Linked DNA regions of Homo sapiens: all the other regions are linked to region 5. Evidence: fine-mapped expression QTL. A gene starts in region 5. Each other region holds a variant in brackets. All regions are shown on one strand. Distances are from middle to middle.

Region 1 (5,105 bases), 160 kb before region 5:
ATGTAAGAACAAAATAAATTTTGGGACACCAGAGGCAGAATGCTACAGTCTGAATGTTTATGTCTCTCCTAAGTTGAAATGTGAAAACTTAATCCCCAATGTGGTGGTATTAAGAGGTGGGCTTTTGGGAGGTGATCAGCAGGGTCCCATGAGTTATGAATGGGATTAGTGCCCTTAAAAAGGAGCCTGAGGGGGCTTCTTTGCCCCTACTGTCATGTGAGGACCCAGGAAGAAAGCGTCGTCTTTGAAGCAAAGAAAGAAATAGTCCTCACCAGACACTAAATTTGCTGTTGTCTTTATCTTGGATTTCCTAGCCTCCAGAACTGTGAGCAAGATCTGTCTTCAATTTATATATTACCCAGCGTGAGGTATCTTGTCATAGCAGCCCAAATGGATAGTTGGTAAAATAAATTGAGGAAATTATTACTAAACCTGTCAGGGAGCTATTATTTCTAGGGTGAAAGGAAGGGGCTATACTCAGGAAAAGAAGGGAGGGAGGAAGAAGGGTATGCTTGGTGTAGCTTTTGCTGGGGTGTTAGCAATATATTTCTTGACTGCTAGGGTTTGCTGTACATATTTGTTAAAATAGTCCTGAAAGTTTTATCCTCACTTCTTTATATGCTGTATTTTACAATTATTAAAGAAAAAACTAAGACAAATTAAATTTAACAAAGTTTGTGCAGGAAACAGGTTTTAGAACTGGGAAGCATTCTGAACCAAAAATTGTTCAGAATACCCCCACCTCCATCATGGTGAGCTATACTTAAAAATCAGGAAACAAGAAATGACATACAGGGATTAAATGATTGGTACAGTTTGAGGTTTGTTTTATTTGGGCATAATCTGGCAATTTAAAGCCTGGGATTTGCTGAAGGTTCAGCTACTATAATTGGCTGAGACTCAGTTGGTTTGTTACAAGGGTATACTCCTAGGTTAGTTTACAACTTGTTTACACATCAAGCTAGAATACTTTCACTATGTTTGAAGGCAACATATAGTTGGAGCATGTTTTATTTCGTTTTTTTAACCCATTTAGCCAGTCTATATCTTTTACGTGGAAAGTTTAATCTGCTTACATTTAAGATTATTATTGATATCTGAGGGCTTATTCCTGTTTTTATTTTATCAATTGATTTTGAGTTTTTTGTATATCCTTTGTTCGTTTCTTTCTCTTTTATCGTTTATTATTGTGGCTTGGTGATTTTCCTTAGTGGTAACATTTGAGTCCTTTCTTTTCTTTATTTGTGTGTTTGCTCTACCAGTGGGCTTTATACACTCATGTGTTTTCATGATGGTAGATATCATCCATTTGTTTCCAGGTACAGGACTTCCTTAATCATTTCTTGTAGAACTTGTCTAGTGGTGATGAATTCCCTCAGCATTTGCTTATTTGGGAAAGACTATTTCTCTTTCGTTTATAAATAACATTTTGGGTATAGTGTTCTTGGTTGGCATTTTTTCTTTCAACACTTTGAATATATAATCTAATTATCTTCTGGCCTATAAGGTTTCTGCTGAGAAATGTGCTGTTAGTCTGATGGGGATTCCCTTATAAGTGACTAAACACATTTCTCTTGCTCTTTTTAGAATTCTCTGTCTTTGACTTTTGGCAGTTTGACTATAATGGGCCATGGAGAAGACCTTTTTAAATTGTATCTATTTGGAGATCTATGAGTTTCCTGTTATCTGGATGTCTAAATCTCTTGCTAGACTTGGAAAATTCCCAGCTATTGTTTTGTTAAATAGGTTTTCGATCTTATATTTTCTCTCACCTTCTGAGACACCAAAAATTTAAACATTTGGTTGCTTAATAGTATGCTATATGTCATGTGGGCTTCACTCATTCTTTTAAATTCTTTTTTCTTTATTTTTGTCTGGCTGGGTTATTTCAAAAGATCTGTCTTCAAGCTCTGAAATTCTTCTGCTTGATCTAGTCTATTATTGAAGTTTTTGAATATATGTTTTAATTCCATTCAATGAGTTTTTCAGTTTCAGAATCTGTTTGGTTCTTTTATGTATGACCTCTATCTCTGGTAAATTTCTCATTCATACCCTGAATTGTTTTTCTAATTTCTTTGTATTGTTTACTTTGTTCTGTTGTATCTCACTAAGCTTTAAAAAATCATTATTTTGAATTCCTTTCTGGGATTTTGTAAGTTTCTTTTTAATGGGAATCTTTTGCTGGAGAATTATTGTGTTCCTTTGAGGATGCTATCTTTCCTTGCTTTTTCATGTTTCTTGTGTCTTTACACTGATATCTGCACATCTGGTGTAACAATCACTTATTCCAATTTTGTGAATTTGCTTTCATAAGGGAGGACTTTTTTCTGAGGATGTATCTATGGTATTGGTTGTGTAGGGCACTTTGGCTTTGATTCCAGGTGCATGCGGTAGTGTAGTCTCTGTATGATTTCTTTGGCTGTAACCAGCATCAGTAGCAGTGGC[A/T]TAGGGTGTGGTTGTTAGTGGAGGCTGTGGTGACATTCTGCTAGGGATGGGGACACAAAATGGGCCAGTCCTTGTGTCCCAGTGGTGGCAGTGGCAGGCTGACAATGCCTGTTGTTGAGCCCCAGGGTAATGTGCACTGGCACCAGTGTTAGCAGATCTAGACAGGCTGGTTCTTGGGCCTCCAAATGGCTTGCTTTGGTGCTGGCAGTGGCAGTGGTGGGCTGGACAGGTTGGTGGGTCTTTGGGCCCCTGCACAGTGAGCAAGGCATAGATGATGGCAGTAGCAGTAGTGGGACAACCTTCTTGTTTCCAAGCAGTCTGCACTGGGGTTGGCAGGGGCAGAAATTTGCTAGTTGGGCCAGTCCCCAAGCCCGTAGGTCATGCATGCAGGTGGGTGCCAGCTGTGGTGGTAGCAGCAGGTTGGATGGCCCATCCTTAGGCTCCTGGAAGGAGTGCTCACATGCCGAAGGTGGTGGATGGGGCAGGGTGATCTCCAGGCTCCTGAACAGTATGCCTGGGCACTGTGGGAAGAGGCAGAGCTGGGCCAGGCAGGCCTGTCTTCAACAACCACTGGCAGTGTGTGCAGGTGCTAGCTGTGGTAGACAGGGGCAGAGTGATCCTGGATGTGATGGTTAACATTGTCAACTTGACTGGAATGAAGGATGCAAAGTATTGTTTCTGGGTGTGTCTGTATGGGTGTTGCCGAGGAGATTAACATTTGAGTCAGTGGACTGGGAGAGGAAGACCCACCCTCAATCTAAGTGGGTACCATCCCATCAGCTGCCAGCACAGCTAGAAAAAGCAGGTGGGAGAAAGTGGAAGAAGCTGACTTGCTGAGTCTTCTGGCTTTCATCTCTCTCTCCTGCGCTAGATGCTTCCTGCCCTTGAACATCAGGCTCCAGGTTCTTCGGCCTTTGGACTCTTGGACTTATACCAGTGGTTTGCTGCAGACTCTCAGGCCTTTGACCACAGACTGAAGGCTGCACTGTCGGCTTCCCTACTTTTGAGCTTTGGACTTGGAGTGAGCCACTACTGGCTTCCTAGCTCCTCAGCTTGAAAACAGCCTATTGTGGGATTTCACTTTGTGATCGTGTGAATCAATTCTCCTTAATAAACTCCCTTTCATATATGCATATATCCTATTAGTTCTGTCCCTTTGGAGAACTCTCACCAATACACCAGGTCCCTGGCAGAATGCTTGGGTGAGGGTGGCAGCAGATGCCCTGTGACCCTGCTGCTAGTGGGCAGGGTTGTTTTCAGTGGCAGCAACCATGGGCAGGTGGTTGGGGAGTGCATGCTTTGGCCCTAAGTGGAAGATGTGCATGAGGTAGCCTGTCCTTAGGTTGCTTATAAATGTGTGGTGGCCAACTGCTGGGGGTGGGCAGTGTCACAGCCAATGGCTTACACTTTGGGCCTGGCAGTAGCAGCCAACAGCAGCAACCAGCAGCAGCAGCTGTGGGTGGAGGATATCAACGGGGGACCCAGGATGTGGAGATGCAGAGGCTTTTGAGCCTCATGACAGGATTCATTCTGCTGAGAGATGGACTCTCAAAATGGAACCTTGCTGTAGCTGCTTAGGATTTGCCAGGGGTGGTGTGTGCGGGACCCAGCGTGAGCTCCCATTCTAGAGCAGTAGAGTTGTATGGTCTTCAGGCAGCTTCCTATGTTAGTTTTAAGGTCCTCAAGGGTCGAGGAGTTATCTCATGGCTAGGATTGCAAGAATCTACAGTGGGAATGTGGACTGCTGGGGGTCTCTCACTTACCCTTTCTCCACACTGGAGAGCCTCTCTGGGCTCCCAGCTGGTCATGGCTGAGCAGGCTGTCTCACTTCTCTCTTTCCTTGCCTTAGGTGTTTCTGGCCACTTTTCTGTTGAATTCCTGTGTACTCTTTTAGATGATCTAGTTGAAGTGTGATTATCTTCTTGTTATTTTTGTTCTTCTTTGTAGAAAACACAAGTACCAGATGCCTCTAGTTAGCTATATTGAAGCCCGTCCACTGGGTTTGAATTTTTTTAAAAACACAAGTACCACATGCCTCTAGTTAGCTATATATATTGAAGCCCCTCCACTGGGTTTGAATTTTTTTAAGGTTATTGGGGTGTGTGTCTGTGTGTGTGCGTGCACGTGTGCACTATTGTAAATGTGGTCTTTTCAATTACATCCTGCAAATGGTTCTTCTGTGAATTGGTTTTACATCATTTTATTTACTGAATCCCTAATAGTTTATGGTAGTTCTCCTCTGTTTTCTTCAGTTGTCCAGGCATATAGTCGTATTAACCTTCTAACTATTATATGTAAAACCCTAGTTTTATATGTAAAACCTAAGCACAGTAACACACATTCTGATGTAACATGATTAGTGGTTGATGCCTATCCTCTTCCAAATCCACTTTCTTCAAACTTTTCTAGGAGGCAAGGGAAAGGGGTCATGGAAGAGAGAAAAAGGAGAGAGACAGAAATGTGAGACAATTGCATGACAGCGGGACAAGGGCTGGGTCCCTACATCTCAGTGCTTGCCCAGCCTAAATTTTCTCAAATAGGCACGTGCAATAGACAGGTGATGTTTTACAATGAGGCTCTTGAAGCTCTCAAAATTATCGGCCAGGTTACAAAGCCCATATTCAATCAAACATATATTTATGCTGAGGCACACAAGTGCT
Region 2 (5,105 bases), 31 kb after region 5:
TAAAGTGCTGGGATTACAGGTGTGAGCCTCCGCGTCTGGCCCCTATAATTCTTTTTCCCTAAGCCAAAGCCTTTTTCAAGGGTCTCTTATGTTGCCTGGGAACCTCATCACTAACAACTCTGAGTCCTAATGTTGACAATCCCTGCTTCCCAAAGCTGTGCACTGCTCCCTGGTCCATTCTTTGAATACTATTGCCAGAATAGTATCGTCTCCATATTATGACTCAATTTTTACTCTTTTTGTCTTAAGGCATTTTACTCTCTTGTGTTGTGCAGTTATAATCCAAGTATGAAATCCAATTAACAGAATTTTATCATAGATGTGCTAGAAGCTACAAGGATTTGGTTTGTTTCTTTCTTAGTTTTCAGTTAGCCAATCTTTTCTGAAAGAAATTGAAGCCACCCTCCTCTTAGAAAAAAAATCCTTCTTTCTTCATTTTATTTTCATGGGCTGCTTCTAGGAGTATATTGAATTCTGCCTTCCATATTTCTAATCAGGCTTCACAGTTTCTTCCTTCTCTGTCCCTTTCTCTCTGTTCCTATTTCTGCCATATCAACTAAGGCTTTCCTTAGCTCTTGCTTTACCTATAGCAATACTACCTACTTTGTCTTCTTACTTACTACACCAGTTTATATTGGCTCTGATCGTTATTATCTATGGGGGCTGAGGCAGGTTGCTTTCACTCTGATCCTCAGTTTCCTCACCTGTAAAGTGGCCATATTAGAGTATGGACCTTGTAAGGGTGGTATAAATGTAAGCAAATATCCTTGGTTCTCCTGAGCTATAAATCCAAATGTGATCATGTTAATTAAAAATCTTAATAGTTCTTATCCTTCCCCAAATATTTATGAGAAATTCATGAAATGGATTAACTCAATAAATATTGAGCACTCTGTGTGAGTCACTGATGTGGGCTCTGGGGACACAACAATAAACAGACAGACCTGGACACTGCTTTCTTGGCATTTGCTTTTTGGGATAGGAAAAACGATGATTAAAAAAGAAGAAAAAGAAACAAAAATGACAAAACATGAGATGATGATAAGTGCTATGGAAAGAAAGTCGGGGTAGGCAGAGGGTAGGAAGGCAGAGGGGTTGCTCGGTTTTACATAAGGTGGTCAGGGAGGGCCTCATCGAGTAGGTGTTTTTGTACAAAGACATTTGGGTGTCATTGGTGGACAGATCTTACCTGTGTTCTTAAGCCAGTGTTGTCATCATGTGTATTGTTATAGTTAGCCAGACACCAAGATGCTGGCACTGACAGCACCACTGTGAGCTAAAAGTCCACAAACGGTGTCAGCGTGGAGCCCTGCACAGTTACCCTAGCCAATAATGCTTTTGAAAAACAGGAAGTAAGAGAGTTGACTTTTTCAGCATTAATGCTCAAGGTAAAGTGTTATGACTGAATTAACTGAAATCAACTACTATTTCCTTAACACAACTTGGATAAAAACCTTTTTCTGCAATCACAGCTGGCACTGTGGTGCCGGTTTTATGGGAAATTGAGGGCTATGATAGCCCCTGTGATGTCTGTCAGCATCCTCTTTCAAAGTGGGAAAAGAAAAGCTCTCTTCCTTAATATAACACTGAGTTACCAGTTACTGGGCGATAGGCCCTAGAGCATTAAAGAGTTTCATGGCTCTTTCCATGACTCAGAGGCCCTTCTTTGTTTTCTTCTGGGAAGACACATGCAAGGAAGCTGGGTTAGGCCCTTCCCTGTGACAGTCAGACTTACCATGACCTTCCAGGTCTAAAGCCCAGTCTTACCATTACAAACTCCTTCCTCAACCAACGGTGCTCTCTCCAGGGGCCCCACCATTCCTGCCAGCACTCTGCCTACCTCTGGAACTGTCTCCAGACATGCCCATGAATGCTGAAGACCCTACTGAGGCAAATATTTCCATTTTGCCCCCAGCAAACTTCTCAGCCTCCTTATAAATCAATGGATGCCAATCATTGCTTAAAGGGAAGAGACGTTGTCTAATTCTGCATCACAGCCATATCTGTCTGAATTCTGACCCATCTGGGACATTGTATTGCACAAGAAATAGAAAAATAATTCATGAAGTTCCTAGCATAATTCTTCTGTTTAGTAGGTATTCAAAAATTGGTAACTATTGTAATTACTTACGTAGTAGTTTAATGGGCAATTGTAAACATATTGTTTATAATTTTTGTTTTTTTCAAAATGTTTTACAAAATCATGTGTTATATAATAAGAAGCAAATTCTTTCAAAAAAAATAAAACACACACACACACACCAAACTCTTGACACATAGCT[GTTTTCTTCCCCTCCTT/G]TTCATCTAAACTTCTCAGAAAAGTGTCTTGCACTCACTATTTCCACTTCCTCAACTTGCTTCTATCTAGCTTCTGCCCCGATCATTCCTCTAAAAATTGATCTCACTGAAGCCACCAGCTGCTTTTGAATGTTCTTCCCTCAGGAGTATGTTGGTGGGTCTGGGAAGGGAAGGCACCCTCAGGTAAATAATAACCCAGAGCAGAGTGGATTGAGTAGAAGGGAGAGGACAAGGATACAAGAGGTGAGGCAATGTCATCCAAGTTGAAAGAATGGTGCAGAACCAAAGTTGGATCCAAACACTCACCTTGTCCAAGAGCCAGGTATTCCAGTTAGAAGTCTGCTCACCTGAGCAGAAGAGAGAGTCCAGAAACAAGCCAACTCCAAACAGGTAATAAACTGAAAAACCAAAGTAGTCCCAGAAGGAAGAGTGCAAGGAGTTGGAAGGCCAAGAGGAATTCCACATTCAGCAACTTACCAGCTGCATTTGGCTGGGCCTTCCTGGGAATATGTGATGAAACGTCCAGATCTACAATGCTATCTCTTTCAGAAATGAGAGATGGGCTCCCAGGGCACTCCTATACTGGATATGTCAACACAGTGCCTGCCACACCCAACTTCCTCTTTGAGATGAAAGTGCCCCACCCACAGCCCCCTGCTTTGAGAAGCAGAGGTAGGTTGTTCTTTGCCCAGGGATGGCTCCTGATTGGACCAATGATTGGCCCTTGACATTAGGGGCTGCCTTCCCAAAAACCAGGGCTTGAATGGAAAAGGTAAGTTTGATCAATCAGATTCTCTCCTTCTGGGATTTGAATTGGGAAACATGGATAGAAAGAAGCAGTTAGCCATGGGAGCTGAAGCTGAAAGGATGGCATACAATGGAGTGGAGCCATGGAGGATTATAGCAAACCAAAACTATGAGGAAGCAGAACCATGTGATAAGAAGGCAGAATTTATGAATAAGCAGCAATTCTGAGGTAGAGAAAATACATGAAAAGTAAACAGAATTTTTTAGTTGGAATAAGACAGCAAGAAGCAAACCTGCAAAGAGTCGCAAGAAATGAGAAGTGGTGCACAATTGTCATTAAGATCCTATCATCTGGCTCAACTAAGAGCCAGTTTCAGATCACCCGGATTTACTAAGGCTCCTGTGCTCTTCATCAGATTTACCCCAGCTTTCCAGGTTTCCATGCTGGTATTTCTTGGGCTCCTACTATGAGCTAGGCACAGTTCTAGGTGTTTGGGATCTAAGGGCAAATGAAACAGGAAAATACTTAAACCCCTCATAACTTGCGGCAGGGTCTCTGTTTCAAAGGGCCAAGTTAAAATAACTACTCTTGCCTTCACCATTTCCCATGGTCCAGTTGGTGTCATTATGTTGTCATTATGAGTCTACACCCACTTTGGCATGCAGTTCATATATATCACCTCCACTGCTAGGGTGGGTAACTGGAGAATCAGGAAAAGAGAAAATAAAAAACAGAAGTTGGGAGATGGGACATGAAGGAAGTCAGATGATGTATGATAATGGCAGCAGAGTGGCTGAATGCCCAGGCTTTAAATTAACTTGCATTCAAAATTTTGCTCTATCACTTATTCATTAAGCGGCTTTTTTGGCAGGTCAGTTTTCTCAGCTGTGAGCTAGAGATAAAATAGCATTCTCCTCATTGCATTTTTTGAGAATTAAGTGAGAAAATATATGCAGAGCATTTAGCATAGTACTTGGCCCATAGTAAATGCTTGATAAATGGTAACTATTTTTGCTGATGCTATTATTATCAGCAATCCTCTAGTTTTCCCATTAGTTGGATAGAATGAATGGGCTGGCGGGGAATTAGATGGCATCCTATGTCAAACCTCTCTGAAGGCTGATGCCAGCCATAACATAGTAGGCTCATTAAAGCTCCTTCTAGTTGGTGCATTCCTTCCCGGGTACTGTCTAGCTGCAGGAATATCAATAATACCAAGAAGAGGGCCAGGCACGGTGGCTCACGCCTGTAATCCCAGCACTTTGGGAGGCCGAGGCGGGCGGATCATGAGGTCAGGAGATCGAGACCATCCTGGCTAACACAGTGAAACCCCGTCTCTACTAAAAATACAAAAAATTAGCCAGCCATGGTGGCGGGCGCCTGTAGTCCCAGCTACTCGGGAGGCTGAGGCAGGAGAATGGCGTGAACCCGGGAGGCGGAGCTTGCAGTGAGTCAAGAGATCGCGCCACTGCACTCCAGCCTGGGCCAAAGTGCGAGACTCCGTCTCAAAAAATAAAAAAATAAAAAACAATAATAATAAAACCAAGAAGAGGTGTAAAAAAAACACTAAGGACAAAAACCGTTGTATGCAAAAAAAACAGTTCTGGAGGGCAGGCAATAATAATTAGTGAAAGCAAAGTGTGTAGCAGTGATATTAGCCAGAGCAGTCAGTTGTGTGGGGGAGGCAAAAAAGCACATTTATTTCTTAAGCACTACTTTTGTCACCTGTCTAGGGGTGGTGGGTATGTGGATGTAGACCTGATAGGCCCAAACTGAGGCATAGCTGAGGGCTGTGGTTGGAAAGCAGTGCTTTGAGAGACCATGAAAGTAGAAGCCCTCTTTTACCTATCAGGGTATAAATGACTGGAATGGGTGGAGGAGCAATGCAGGGAGGGAAGAGGGCAGAGTCAGGGAAGAGGTCAAGAGGGGCAGACCTCCCAATGACTTGGGCGGCTGAGGTGGGAGGATAACCTGAGCCCATGAGTTTGAGTTCAGCCTGGGCAACATAGCAAGACCCTGTCTCTATAACAATCAATCAATCAATCAATCCAGGAAGCGG
Region 3 (5,105 bases), 89 kb after region 5:
AAAAAAATTATTCTAGTTATATAAATTATCAGGAATAAAATAGCATTTCTCCTTGCCTTGTTATAAGGAAATAATATATTTTTCCTTACCAGGAATCAGGATAGTATCTTTGATGATCCCTCAGGGTTATAAAATTGCTTACTGGTTAAAGTTTTTTGCCAAAGATATTAAGAAATAAAAAGTTCGCTCATTTTCCTGTGCAATTTAAAGAAATATTTGCAGTATGTACAGGAATTTTAAGTTATATTGCAGACCCTGGCAATAATATTTAAAAGGCCTATTTTCCCCATTAAAAAATTCTACCTCAGAAGGTAAAAGGAAATCTCCATCATCCCTGAGCAGAAAAGGAAAAAATCATGGGTACTTTAATTAGTTAATAGAAACCACTGTAAATGAGTTATCTATCTCCAGAACATTCTCAGAGAATTTACACGAACTAAAACAGGAATGAAGTGCTCTCAGAGACTTTTTCTCAGGTAAATGTATTTAGTAGTTTGAGTAGTTGATCTGCAAAAACTTTAACTTTAATTAACTACATAGATGAATATTTTTTATTTTGAAATTTGAGAATGTCCTAAGAGGATGTCTACAGGATATGAAACTACTGGGTGCAGGAAAATTTTTTAAATGTTAGCAAATTGTGGCAAGAGGAAAACAAACAGTGGAGAAAACTGTGGTAGAGAAAGTAAAGAAGGGGCAGGAGAAAGCTGTAATTATAACCTGGGCCTGCCTTTGTTCTCATGAAGCCAGGGGCCTCTCCATATCCTATACTTGCTCTTACGCTAATAACAAACCAAATGCTGCAAAATAAAAGTAATAATGACCCAAACTAATTTAAGTCTTTTGTTTAAGGAGTAAATGAGAGAAACATTTTAGCTTCTTAATCAAGGAGTGCTATAATTTCAAGGCATCTTAATATAATTCACTTACCCTAAAGCAATTGTGCAATAAGCAAATTATAAAAGGAAAACAACAAAGGTTAACTTTCTACAGGGGCCAATAGACAAGATCTGTGGAGCACAGCAATTAACCTTCACATACTGGAGTCTTGTTTAAAAGGCCATCAAAAACTCAGATTACTGAAAATCACAAATGTCACCAACAAAAGGAATGTTGATTAGAGTCAAAAAAAAAAAAAAAAAAAAAAACACCTTCCCAAAGGACTGCCTTCTTTGAAGGAATTTCAGAATGTTGCTAGCACAGGTTGACTAAGTTAAATCTCATTGATGGCTCCATCAGAGAATGAGAATGCCCCAGCCAGTGCTGTTTTTAAAATGCACTGGGAGGGAAAAAACGAAATTAACAATCTACTATTCCCTAATATATATGGCTTGGCACCCAGAGAAAGCCTCTGCCCCCGAAAGAGACTTTCTACATAGGGTTAAGCTTCATTAAATGAGGTGCAACCTTTCATTTTCAGGGCATCTCTTTTCTTGCAAGGTCTTTAGAGGCAGAAGTTCCACTTGGATTCTAATACACATCTCTGTGAGCTCAGTTTCCTGAAAATATACACCTACTGGGTTCTAGGTTCTCCCTTACCAGTGACTGTATTCATTATTTCACAGCCACCAGAATCGGACATACACTATTAACATGATGAAAAATACAGCTACTGCTGCAAGTTTGGCATAAGTGGAACGCATGTTCAAGTACTTCGCATCCTGGCGGTATTTCTTGGACAGACTGGACAAATTGTTAGCCTTTGAATCCAATGCTGTCAAAGAGGAAAAAAGGAAAACATTAATTAGTCCCTGGAAGTATTTTACCGAAAGTATTAAGGCAAACCAAAATGAGCAGCACTGCAACAACCATGAATCTTAAATCATCATTTTTATTTTAAGGCTAACATTGCATATACTAATTAACTGATGATGCTGATCAGATGATGTCTGAATTTTTGAGGCTATATAGTAAGGTGGTTAGAAGTGCAGGTTCTGGCCTCAGACTCTTTGGTTCAGATATCACCTGTACAAGTTATGTGACATTGGTCAAGTCATGTAACCTATTTAAAACCTAGTTTCTTCATCTATAATTGGGGATAATAACAGTAACTATGTCATAAAGTTGTATGTACATGAGATTGCCTGTAAAGTGAGCAACAATGCCTGCACATGATAAATTATAATAATTATTACATGTTAATAATTATTATCTTCATAATCTTCTAATGGTCTGAATCATATTCTCTTATATTTTGAAAAACGATAATGATAACCCATGTAAAACAAACTCAGATAACCAGAAAATTCAATTAACCAAACACAGTCTTAAGCTATACTTCAATGATGACTGCTAACATTTCTAAGATTCTCCACATAGTAGAGACTACTATGAAGTTAAAGCTATCAGGATTTATATTTCAATAGACATAGGAAAGTTGTAACTAAAATACAATAAGTACTACAAAAAAAAACGCAAGTAAATTAAGCTTTTTAGTATTTTCTGGCAAGTTTTTTCACCCCCAAGGACATTTGTAATGTTGTTATCTTCTTATAACAGTTAACTAAACACTTAGAGAAATAGCCAGATAGACACAAGCTAGACCATATTAAAATATAAGGCATATTTTAATAATAAACACAAACTCTCCATTTGACATAATAAATTCTGATCAAACTTTTCACTTCTTGAAATTTCAGAAAAAACTATTTTGCAATCCGGTTGTTTCTTCCTTAAAGAATGCTTT[T/C]GGAATATTTGGAGTTGCTTAATAGAGACTGGTTTTGATTGGGAAACATGGCGTTACTTAATAACACAGGCATGACAGCCACGTCTGAATTAGCAACTGATCACATGAGTAAGAAAAACATCTAGTCACGGAAGAAGAGTCAGGGACTGAGAAACAACCATGACAATGCACAGGGCATCTTTTTACAGAGCCTACAAGAATATACACTTCACTGGACAGGGATTTTAAATTATTGTGTTTGCTGCTATATCCTGAATGCCCAGAACAGGGCCTGGTATATAGTTAGTGCTCAATAAACATTTGCTAAATGAATCTAAATCTGCTGAGAATAACTCAGCAGAGGAACAATTATTAGACCCTATGAAACAAGTCATAGTTGAGAGAATTTATATATGAACGTTTTGAAATACAGGATAACATAAAGACAAAGCTATTGCTTGGAGAAGTCATTTAACAAATATTTATGTGACAGGCACCATGTGAAGTGCTGAGGATACAACAGTGATCAAAATATACATGATCCCTGCCTTTAAGGAATTTAGAGTCTTGCATGAGTGATACAAGAAAAATTCCTGTGCTAGTCTACTTTATCCCATATAGGAATTGCAAGTCTGTATGACAAAACCTTACACACTCACTCACTCAAAATTTGGTATTTAAAGAGTGTGAAGGTAAATGAATAACTGCTCACTACTCAAAAAAAGGTTAAAGTTTGTAGTTCATAATAAAAGAAAACTCACTTACTAATGAATATATAGCATGGCTGAATTCAAAAATACTTATTAAGGAACCTATTTGTGACCATTTCTGTGGGGGATATATAAGGAGTATGTGAAACAGATATAAAATACATAAGCACTATCTTTAAAGAGCTTACATGTCCACATTAAACACTTAGGTAATATTTAAATATCAGGTAAATATACATATACTTTTAACCTAATTTTACCTAATTACCTACACTTTTAAAATTATATAAAGGGCTGGGTGTTGTGGCTCATGCCTGTAATCCCAGCACTTTGGGAAGCTGAAGTGAGTGGATTGCTTGAGCCCTGGAGTTTGTGACCAGCCGGAACAACATGGCAAAACCCCATCTCTACTAAGAAAATACAAAAATTAGCCAGGCGTGGTGGCACATGCCTGTAGCCCCAGGTACTCAGGAGGATAAGGTGGGAAGATCGCTTGAACCCAGGAGATGGTGGTTGCAGTGAGCCAAGATCGTGCCATTGCACTCCAGCCTGGGCAACAGAACAAGACTCTGTCTCAAAAAAATATACGAAATTATATAAAAATATTTAATTATCCAAATATGTTTGCCTACTTTAATATAAATATATGAAATATATACTTATGTTATATGGAAATATATTTAATATATATTAAATATATATTTAATATGGTAAGAGGTATTTAATAAATATATTTAAGGTAAATTAGGTAAACACACATACATGTAATATGTGCTAAAACCATTATGTTATTAAGTGCTTTAGGAGTTTAAAGTACAGAAGAGATTAATGTGATACAGGCTATAAGGATCAGAGAAAGGTTCTTTAAAGAGACAGTTCTTATGGAGGTCTTACAGAACAGGTCCAGCATAAGGCAGAATAGACCACTAAGGATAGTAAAGAAGCTGGTGTGGCTACAGAAGAATGTTTGTGAACTAGAGAATGACAGACATTTGCATCTTCCTTATTTTCCATATGTAGAGCACAATGCCTTACAAATAACAAGCTCTCAATAACAATGGCTGACTGACGGAAAAATAAGTCAGACTGGATCTTATCTTGTAGTCCCAGATTTAAAAGTTTTTCAGAGGAATGCCTTGATGAAAATGGCATTTTATAAAGATTGATCTGGCAGCAGTAAAGTCTCCCAAAGAGGCTACTCAAAAAACCACTGCAATACATCATTGAGTTTTCTCTCATTCATTTCCCTTAATTTATACAAGTTATATAATTTAATTAATTTTGTGAATATCTTAGAAATAATCATTGCTTCTAATATGGATGAGTCCTTTACACTGTTCCAACTCAACAAAAACTAATCATGCTAGGAAAAAAAATATATTGGAAGCATTGTAATGTAATGTACTTCTGGGAGATAAATTCTTAACAGTTCTAGGTAGAATCTAATAGCATAAAAGGCACTGCAAAATAAGCTATCCTTGTCTATGGAATGAGAACCATTTCTTCATAAGACTCATTGCTTTTAGATACCTGAGAGTGCTTCTCCTCGTTGTAACACTTCTTCAATATTGGCCACCATGATCCTCTGCACATCTTGCAATTCAGTGTTGATGGAGCCTAGATTTCTTCGAGCACGACTGTCAATGTAGAGCTTCTTGGTTTTCTGAATGAAAGTATCTAGAATGATGAAGAAAACTGACCATTTCTTTCATGGCCATCAAAGTACTGAG
Region 4 (5,105 bases), 880 kb after region 5:
TGAGGCGGAAGAGCAGACGGGGATCCAGAAGGCGTTGTCGGTGACATCACGGAGAGGGCGATTTCTATGTAGATGAGGCAGCGCAGGGGCTGCTGCTTCGCCACCTGCTGCTTCGCCACGAAAGAGTTCCCGTGCCGTGGGAGTAAGTCTGGGACCTCTGGTCGGACCGGAGAGTCGCAGCTGTGTGTTAGGGCTAGGATGGCTCCTGGATGCGCGTGACGCAAGTGACCTTGCGTGTAAAGGGTGAGGCATATGAGGCTGCGGCGGGGCGGAGGGGCGTGAGCTTATACTTATGTTTATCTGGCAGAAGAAATGTTATGATCACGAAGGTGGTTTTTCCAGAGCAAGGCTTAGCAGTTTTACTGTGGATGTGCTGACCCCTGTGATTTCCCCGAATGTGGGAATCTTGATTACATAATTTGTGGCAGTGGGGAACTGTGTCTGTGTTTTTCCCTGGGTTGTTGTCGTTTTAAAAGTGGATTTTGTTTGCTGTGGAAGCATATACAAGGCGTTAGTATAAACTAATAAACAGGTCTTTGTTCCCATCTGTAACTTACTTTCAAAGTAAAGATTTTGCCAGGTAGTGGTTGGTTCTCACGCTTGTAATCTCAGTAGTCTGTGAGATGCATTGATAACTTTATGTTAATACCGCTCGAGCTCTGGAGTTTGATGTCAGTGTGGTCAAATATGGTGGACCCGTCTCTACTAATCTCTTAACTTTTTTTTTTGTTCTATAGAAATAAAACTAAGCTTTTCTTTTCCCTACGGGAGCCCATTGTAAACATTTATTAACAGCAAACAGTCCACTGGAGTGCATGGCGGGATCCCGGCTTACTGCAACCTCTGCCTCCTGCCTTCAAGCTATTCTCCTGCCTCAGCCAGAGAATACTCGATCTCCTAAGTAACTGAGATTACAAGCGCAGGCCACTAAAAAATTAGGCCCGGCTAATTTTTTGAATTTTTGGTAGAGACAGGGTTTTACCATGTTGGCCAGGCTGGTCTTAAACTCCTGACCTCAAGTTATCCGCCCGCCTCGGCCACCCAAAATGTTGGGATTACAGGCCTGAGCCACCGCGCCTGGCCTGTTTACAGACTTTACAGACAGATTTTGTTTACAAGCTTTACACGCACGGTTCAGTTGCAGTTAGTGTATATTATGCTGGGCCCAAGACAAATGTCTTTTTTTTTTTTTCCCAGTGTGGCCCAAGGAACCCAAAATTTAGACAACCCTGCTCTAGAGGGTTTGATTCATGTTTCCACTGGGTTATGCTTATTGCCTGTAATTCCATTTGATATTTTCCAAATCTGATTTTTTGAAAAGCGTTTTCCTGAAGCACCCTAAAGCTTTCCTAATAATATGGGAACTTAAACCAGATTGGATGTAACAAAACCCAGCTGGGATCCTGCAACTTCTAACCTTAATGTTAGATCAAGAAGCAAAACACCCACCAGTCCAAGGGTCAGGGAAGATGAAGATCATGCCTGAGCTGTAACAACGCCCTTCCCAGTATACAAAAGCGTGTAACAGCCACTTGAATTCTATCTTCCAAGTGTCTCCTGTTGCCCAGGCTAACCTAGAGCTATCTAAAGATGGCAAATCTGGGAAATGTGCATTCAGCTTGGCAAAACTGATACATTACAAATCCACCACAGTCCACTTCTTCTCAAAGTGGCATCAATGTGCACCTTCCTCCTCCTCCTTCTCTTTTCCTCCTCTTCCTCATCCTCTTCTTTCTCTTCTTCTTCCTCCTTTTTCCTCCTTGTAAAGCCATACTTAAGGTTCAAATAAAGACAATAGGAAAATCATACTTTTTCTCATTCAGTGAAAATATGCCAACCCTTTCCCCAACAGGATAAAGTCTTTTATTTGTCTTTGAATGATGTTCACTCCTTTTTTAGCTAGATCACATTCCATATTTGCTATCCTGTAACCTAAATATTGAGATTTCTAAAAGTTAACTATTAATGAATATGATAGCGAGGATGATGGAAGATGAGAATTCTCAAGAAAAGTATTGGTTAATATATAACCAAATGTATTCATCTCAAAATAATGAAGAAATACTCCTAACTATTACAAGT[C/T]CTCATTTCTGCAACTGTCACTGGCCCTAGCTGGTATTTGTAACTATCTTCACATCTTGCTCTCACAGCCATTTCCTTTGGGCCTGGGCCAGTGGACGTGAGCGTGGGAAAGACCAGAACCCGCGGTGCTCCCCACCGCACTATCCTCGGGTCTCCAGAGGTGGGATACACCGGGCAGGGGCCTTTGCTGGATTCTAAACCGGCTCTGGGGATACAAGAACAGCTGCCTTTGAGAAACAGTTCAAGTCTCTATATTCCAGACTTCCTAGTAGGACTAAACGCTTAATGTTCATCCAGGAATTCATGGTTCTCCTAAAACCCTGCGGTGGAATGCCTTCCTTCACTGAGCATTTATTGGGCACCTACTAGGTGCTAGGGTGGCTCTGGGCGAAGGGCTGCAGCCTGTGCAAACTCCAGGTCCCTTTCCTGTGGATCCCACCTCTGAGGGCCCGAGGGGGACGCAGTGAGGACACCACGGGTTCTGGTCCTTCCCACGCGCGCGTCCGCTGGCCCAGGCCTGGCGGAAATGACTGTGAGCGCAAGGTGTGAGCGGGGCTAAGAATGGGAAAGCGAGTGGCTTTCGCCGGAGAAGCTGCAGTTGTCACCTGTAGAGGGGCCAGCGACTTTTGAGAGGGTGAAGAGCAGGCGGGGGAAGCAGTGAAGAGCAGACGGTGAGGAGCAGGTGGCCCTTTGGCCGTTGGAGTCCCCCAGCTGACTCTGCCCGGGTAGAACGTCCAAAGTGCCCAAAGACTCGACTCTTGGCTTCATTGTCTCCCGTATTCTGGGTTTCTGGAGTGCGCGGGATTGGACAGGCATCAAATATATGAGATTATCTGCAGCCAGAGGTTAAAAAGCCATTTCTGGTATCAGCAAATGAGTTTAAGACACAAGCCATTAGAGTCTCTGTGGCGCAATCGGTTAGCGCGTTTGACTGTTAACTGAAAGGTTGGTGGTGCAAGCCCATCCAGGGATGGCACCTTTTGCTTAGGCAAGATTCACAGTTTCTGTTTAAAGACTTTAATCCTGGGAATCCTCCGGACCTCTATTAGCTTTGAATCAGATGCCAAAATATGCTGCGTGAAGGCTCAAGTTCCATGGAAGTTCCTAAAAACAGGAATATTTCAGCAAAAGTAATTTTTCAATAGAGCCTGAGCCTGGGGCTTCAGAGCTTACGCCAGAGCCACTGCACCTATTTCATCACCTCTTGAAGCTGGGTTTTTACAATTGCACATTCCTGGAAATCCAAAACTCCCAATAATTGAAAACAAGAAAACCCCAGTCTTCACTTGTAGTGAAGCCTCAATTTCTGGGTTGAAATCTTGGTTCATTCATGACGTGACTTTTAAAACGTTACTGGATTTTCTGTACCTCAATTTCTTCGTCTATAAAAAAGAGCAGCCGGGCACGGTGGCTCACGCCTGTAATCCCAGCACTTTGAGAGGCCCAGGCAGGTGGATCACCTGAGGTCAGGAGTTCGAGACCAGCCTGGCCAGCGTGGTGAAACTCCGTCTTTAATAAAAATATAAAAATTAGTCAGGCATGGTGGCGGGCGCCTGTACTCCCAGCTACTTGGGAAGCTGAGGCAGGAGAATCACTTGAACCCGGGAGGCAGAGGTTGCAGTGAGCCGAGATCACGCCATTGCACTCCAGCCTGGGCAAAAGAACGAGACTCCTTCTCAAAAAATAAAAATAAATAAAAAATAAAAAAGAAAGAAAGAAAGAAATTTTTCCTGGCACATTTCTATATGTTCCATTCTGGATGACTTGCTCTTCAGGCTTATCCCACAGCTGTTATCATAATATCTCTCTTTACTGCACCATCTTGGGATTTCCATCGCCTCTCTCTTGTTAGATCCCCTGCTTCATGGATCTCAAGGGGGTTCATTCCTCACTCACTTCTTCCTTTTGATGATGCATATCCTCCAAAACCTCCTATAAAGTGGTTACCTTAGAAATAAACTTTTTGAGACACTGCATGTCTGAAAATGTCTTTTATACCCATAAAATTAATTGATATTTTACTAGATAGAGATACAAAAAGATAGGTGGAAATAATTTCTCTCTGAGATTTTTGAAGGCACTGCTTTTTTTGTGTGTGACAGAGTCTCGCCTCGCTCTGTCGCCCAGGCTGGAGTGCGGTGGTGGGATCTTGGCTCACTTTCAATCTCCACCTCCCAGGTTCAAGCGATTCTCCTGCCTCAGCCTCCCCAGTAGCTGGGACTACAGGTGCCTGCCACCATGTCCGGCTAATTTTTTTATTTTTAGTAGAGATGGGGTTTCACCATGTTGGCCAAGCTGGTTTTGAGAGCGACCACTCCTCATATTGTCTTACACTTAATTTCTTGTTTGCTGAAAAAGTGGAGGTTGAAAGAATGGGCAGAAGTGAAAATCACGCTCAGACAACTGGGTGCCACATTTCGGGCCTGGTTGTTAAAATTCAACCGCTGACCTCACCGATTGTGCTGTCTATAAATTCCAGACATTGTATAAAAAAGCATTATGAAATTCCCTTTTCTGTCCTGTTTCATTCTGATTACCAGTACATGCAGCCCCCAGTCACGTACCCCTTGCTTGCTCAGTTGATCATGACCCCCCCAACACAGCCCCTTTAGAGTTGTGGGCCCTTAAAAGGGACAAGAATTACTTATTTGGGGAGCTCGGTTTCTAGGATGTGAGTCTACCGATGGTCCCAGCTGAAAAAAGCTCTTACATTCCACAATCGGGTGTCTGAGGGATTTTGTCTATGACTCCTGCTACAGTTTCAAACTCCTGACCTCAAGTGATCCGCCTCCCTTGGCTTTGCAAAGTGCTGGGATTACAGGCCTGAGCCATGGCTCCCGGCCCTTGTTGTTTACTGTTTTCCATAGTCATTTCTGAGAAAGAAAAAGGTAAGCCTTTTCTGCTCTGAGCTAGAGCTGGTCTGACAAACACCTAGGCCATGGTGTTCTATGGTTAAAACGAAAAATTTCACAACACCAATATCAGACAAAGTTACCCTCTCACTAAACTGAAAGAAATACTAT
Region 5 (5,105 bases):
GTAGGGAGGAGGATCACTAGGAATGGCAACACAGAGTGGGAACTAGATCAATGCAAATTTTGTGGGCAAAATAGAATTTCTGTGGGTGTGATATTTTTAAGATGTATTGTAAGGCTGCTCTGAACCATCCAAGCATATCCCACTGAATTTAAACATTCTCTAAAGGTCCTGAAGTCAGCAACTACAATCCAGGTGAACCAAAAGTTGCTCCTCTATGTCATAGAAGCCTACAGGAGAGGCAGTAGGGTGGGAATGGAGCAGAGAGATCCCAAGAAGTTATGGGTAAATATTTTTTAAATCTAAACATTCAGAAAAATAAGAGAGACTAGGAATCACTCTCCTCCTCCTCTCCACCACACCAAAAAAAAAGGAATAATAAGAAAGTGAAAGGAAAAATAGTTTTAGGTTAAATTTCATCACCATCTGAAAGAAAATTACTCCGATTTTGTTTAAGCAAGAGAAGAATTCAGCTGAGAAATTATCTAGCAGGCAGCAAAATCAGGGAGTCACTTCCCATTGCAAAGCAAAAGAAAACAAGGAGCAAGAGGATGGTCCTGGATAGCTGTTTAGACAATCAGACATACTGCTAACATCTCCTTGCCTTAGAAACTCCGTGATGTTTAAATTAACAATTGGCCACAAGCCAAACACAGGAACACTCAAAAGTTTAGAAGGGTGTGCTGCAACTGGTACCTTAGCAAAACACAATAATAAATTAAGAGGATTCAAGAAGCCTTCACTGTAGACTCTAAGAAGATTTAAGATTTGTACCGAGAAACGGCTTCTAAATCTCTTCTACTGCATTAGTTTAGCATCTAAAGAACACCTGTCTAAAAATCAAAATATCTAAATCCTATCCTTTGAGTCAACTTGACTAACACTCAACTTGACTACCTAAAAGCTAGCTAATAATCGCAGCACCTCAGCAGAGCAGAGGTGGAGGGCATAGTTTTATGCACTGAGATCCTATAATAAAAGAAGCCCTATGTGTCAGAGTAATCCCATTTCTGATATCATATTATTTAATACTTAATTTTTCAAATCACTTTACAATTATATTTATTATTCCCTACAATTCTCTAAAGCAGGTTATTCCTTTAGTCCTGCTTCATAGGTGAGGAGACTACATATCATGAAGATTAAGTTATTTACCAAAACAAGTTAATGATAGACCAAGGATTATTACCCTCAGACTGTCTCATTGATCATACTCCTCTCTATCCTAAAGCTACACTTAAAGCTTTCACTCAAAGAAAAAGGAAAAGCAAAAACACCATCATATATGCTCTTTATTAAATGCTTCAGAAACAACGGCTCTGCTTCATCACTACAAAGCCTCCTGGTCCACTTCTGAAATTCTTAGTGACCTAGACGTGTACGAAATTTGAACTTTCCAAGAAGTATCTAGTTGGTGCTGAACAACCCAGTACTATTTTCGGGTGATAAATAACCTTGTTCTCTTTTTAAACATCTGCGATTGACATGTCGACTGACTGTTAACAATGAACAAAGACCATATTTTTCTGAAGCTCATCATCTTCCTAACCTTTTCTTTGAAAACAGATGTAGTTCATGTACTAGTTTTTTGGTGAAGGTAAAAATCTTTATTCAGATTAGGCTCAGAAAAAGAAGGGGCTGCTTTCCGTTCAACAAATATGCACAAGACAGCATCCCACTGGGAGCATCAATCTCAGAAGCAGTAAAACACAGCCTCGGCCCTGAAAGGACTTTCTGAACACCTTTGGAGTGTCATCCGTTTAATATACATTATTTTAATTAATCCTATTAGCTGGATAATTTCTTTCCCATTTTATTGGTGAGTTCATATAGCAGAGCTGGATTTGAATCCAGGATTACAGAGCAGGGCTCCAAAGCCCAAGTTATTTCCACTAAAGGGTCTGAAGAAATGTAGAATCTAAAAGTGTGGGTGGGATGGGGAAGATATGATTTGATTCCCTTTCCTTGGTCCAACCGTGTTAGAAACATCCAACCATAAAGAAGCTTTCTAAGGAAGCCCTTTGAATTAACGTATCCACTTTTTCTCACCCGCCCGTGCCCCACCCCCAGCCATGCCAAAGGAGCAGCAAATGCTGCTGCCAGGTTGGAGGAATTGGTGATCGTCACACCACATTCCTGGGTCTGGACACAGCCTGAAACAGCAGCAGAGCTCCGCGCCTCGGAAAGAATAACAGCAGTTGAGATTTTTAAATCATGTGCCTCAGCATGCAGCCACACCAGTTGCCCTACTTCTCCTGCCTCCACCTTTCAAAGACGCGAGCAGCACACACGGCTCCCCCGGACTTTCGGTGGGGTTGGAGTGTCAAAACTCAGGCGCGCCGCAAAACCCCGTCCCCATCCAAACCAAGCCCACACACCCGGCCCATGTGCCGCCCCCTGGCAAAGGCGAGGCTGGCTGCGACGGTGCAGGCCGTTTGGCTTGGCGGCCCTGCCCCCGCTCTCCACGCCAGAATCTGGCATTCCTTCGCTCAGCCCCTCCGAGGCCCGCCGTCGGCTCTCGCTCGACCCCAAGAAACGCGGAACCTGAAGGGCAAAACTGCCCACCTCCCTGCACCCTGGCACTACGAAAAAGGAGTTTCTGAGACTTGCTGCCGGCCTCCCTCCTGCCGAGGAGGCGTGTAAGGGGTCCCGGGCCGCGGGGAGCAGAGGCGGCGGGGAACCCCGGCGGTTGGCGGGGCACCACGGGAGGGGCCCCCGGCGATGTCCAAACTCTTGGGAACCCAGCGAGTGGCCTCGCTCCGCGCCGGCGGCCGAGCCTGGCCTTCCCACACAGAGAAGGACCGAGGGGGAGAAGGGTCGCCCCAGGTGGCAGCCCCGGGCGCCGCGGACAGCGCCCCTCAGCCCGATACTCACCATGCGCGGGGGCCGCGCAGCACAGCCAGAGCGCCAGCAGCGCCCACAGCAGAGCGGGGCGCAGGGCGGGCATCTTCTCGGTCGCCTCCTCCTCCGCCGCCGCCGCCGCCGCCTGGGCAGATCCACATGGGGAGGGGGTCCCGATAGAGGAGCCCCACTCTCTCCTCCCCTCCTCCTGCTTCAAAGGCTCAGGCCCTGGCGCTACGCTCCGAAGCCCAGGCGCAAATGCCTCGACTCCCCGCGCCCCGAGTCCGCCGCTCCTCGGCCGCCGCCTCAGCCGCCGCCCGAAGTTTGGCTGAAACTTTCTCGGGTGTGCAACGAAGCAGCCTCGTGTGTCCTTCCGCCTCAGCCGCCTCCTCCCACCGCAAGCCCCGCCCCACTGTCGCCGCGGCCTCGGCCCCGCCGCCTTGGGCACCCAGGGGTTTCCCGCAGGAAGAAGCGCCGGCCCGAGCTCCGCGCGGAGGGATCTACTACGAGTCACTGGCCCCGTCCGCATCCTTCTCCAGCGGCCCCGGGGGCCGCCGCGCCTTAACTCGATCAGGGCTGCAGCGGCTCGCTGGCTTGACCAGTGCAGAAGGGGCGTGGGGGTGAGGGGGGTGGGGTAGGACTCTGAACTTCAAGCACTGGAGTTTGCCGGGATCGTGAACTTGCAGGGAGAGGCGGTCCTCATCCAGTGAGGTCTGTATCGCCACCTACACCCACACATCCACACACTGCTTTGCTAGCTAGAGGAATGCTCTGGAGTAGGACCAGTGCTGTCAAAGAAGGAAAGTGGGCCAAGGCGCCAAAGTCCATTAAAAAGGAATAGAGCCATCACGGAGTGGTGCTGCCCCATTCATTCATTCATTTGTTCATCCGTGTAGCGAATATTTCTTAAGTGCCTTACTTTGCGTAGCTGTGTGCTTGGCAGTGGGATGATACCAAAGATGCACAAGCAACTTTGAGTACCAAGACTTTGCCGCTGTGGGCTGGGGGATTCAGGGAAGGCTTTCCCAGAGGAGCTGGGATGAAAGCAGGATCTTGAAAGGTCAGTAAAATTTGTATAAGACAAGGAGACCAGCTAAGCTAAGGATATTCGTTGTAACACTGTAATAGCAAAACCTTGAAAACAACATAAATGCCCACCCTTAGAGGAATGGATGAATAATGTATGGTATATTTATAAAATGAAATGCAACACAGTAATTGAAAAGACTATAGCTATTTATGTCAATAGGGATAAATCTTAAAAACTAAATGATAGTGAAAAAACTAATCACAGAGGGAGACAAAGTATACCATTTATGTATATTTTTTTCAAGACAATACTACACATTATCTGTGGATGCATATATATAGATATAGATATTAAGAGACTATAACCAGAATAGTAGTTACTTCCAGGGCAGGAGAGTAGGGGGTGTGATCAAACCTGGGTACAAGTGGGCTTCTAAGAAAAGAGCTAAAAGTAAGAACAGCAACAATAGTTGTATGGACATATCATTCCAGGAAAGAGCCCTCGTGAAAGCAAAGGTACAGTCAAAAGAGTAAGTAAATGAGTTCTGTCTCTGTTAGCAGTGAGAGGAGTCAAGGACGGAAAGGGGGTTGGGACCAAATTATGCAGCCTTGAATGGCAAGCTGAAAGGGTGGGGAGGCAGCTACCTCTTAGGTCACATAAAACTATTGAAAGTTTTTGAACAGAGTTGAGATTGATGGAAAGGAAGATTGCTCTGATAATTCTGTAGAAAATTGATTGTTGGGGGAGCAAGAGGTGAACTGGAGCCCCAGGACCAGTCAAGAGTTGGTGAACAGTCCAGGCACAAATTTAAGAAGACCTGAACTAATAAGGTAGATTTCAGAAGGAATGAATCCGAGACAATGTTAAAGAAACAGAAAAAAAAAATGGAGGTGTGACTAATTGGATGTGGGAGTTTACAATCCTGTTGGGATGGGAAATCCTACCCATAGAACCTCTCCCTGACTCCTATAGGATAAAATTCAAACTTCTAAACATGGTACATACAAGGCCTTTTCGTCATTGGGCCCCATCTCCTGTCCTCCCTGCCCCTGTTGTGAACTTCACACAATAACAGTATTGACTAACTTGAGATTCCCCCAAACATATCTTGCTGTTTCTGTCCCTGTATCTTTTGTTCCTTTGGCTTGGAATGACTCCTGTAGTCCCCTTCCCTCCTCCTCTTAATGAACTTCTAATCATAATTCATCCTTCAGTCCAAAGAAGGCTTTGCCGACAC

What was found.
Region 1: its variant is fine-mapped to the expression of NOTCH2 in whole blood (TOPMed, PIP 0.90).
Region 2: its variant is fine-mapped to the expression of NOTCH2 in whole blood (INTERVAL, PIP above 0.99). The same link has a PIP of 0.9 or more in CD4 T cells and regulatory T cells.
Region 3: its variant is fine-mapped to the expression of NOTCH2 in whole blood (INTERVAL, PIP above 0.99).
Region 4: its variant is fine-mapped to the expression of NOTCH2 in whole blood (TOPMed, PIP 0.97).

Annotation. Positions count from the first base shown.
Region 1 is chr1:119,903,737-119,908,841 of GRCh38, forward strand. No RefSeq gene overlaps it. Among named protein-coding and RNA genes, the nearest start is that of ADAM30, 9.8 kb to the left of the region's middle. The variant A/T (reference allele first, on the strand shown) is at 2,446.
Region 2 is chr1:120,097,879-120,102,983 of GRCh38, forward strand. No RefSeq gene overlaps it. Among named protein-coding and RNA genes, the nearest start is that of NOTCH2, 31 kb to the left of the region's middle. The variant GTTTTCTTCCCCTCCTT/G (reference allele first, on the strand shown) is at 2,283.
Region 3 is chr1:120,155,479-120,160,583 of GRCh38, forward strand. SEC22B (SEC22 homolog B, vesicle trafficking protein) reads right to left here. Exons shown (of 5, transcript NM_004892.6): 4 at 4,906-5,052; 5 at 1-1,714. The coding sequence ends at 1,560. Among named protein-coding and RNA genes, the nearest start is that of SEC22B, 18 kb to the right of the region's middle. The variant T/C (reference allele first, on the strand shown) is at 2,687.
Region 4 is chr1:120,942,308-120,947,412 of GRCh38, forward strand. All of the region lies in intron 2 of LINC00623 (long intergenic non-protein coding RNA 623), which reads left to right. It overlaps RNVU1-4 (RNA, variant U1 small nuclear 4), which reads left to right and starts at 293; the gene lies at 293-456. RefSeq lists enhancers at 1-231, 1-289, 221-924. The variant C/T (reference allele first, on the strand shown) is at 2,083.
Region 5 is chr1:120,066,463-120,071,567 of GRCh38, forward strand. It overlaps NOTCH2 (notch receptor 2), which reads right to left and starts at 3,200. Exons shown (of 34, transcript NM_024408.4): 1 at 2,872-3,200. The coding sequence starts at 2,944. It overlaps LOC101929178 (a long non-coding RNA gene), which reads left to right and starts at 3,366. Exons shown (of 2, transcript XR_254374.4): 1 at 3,366-3,549.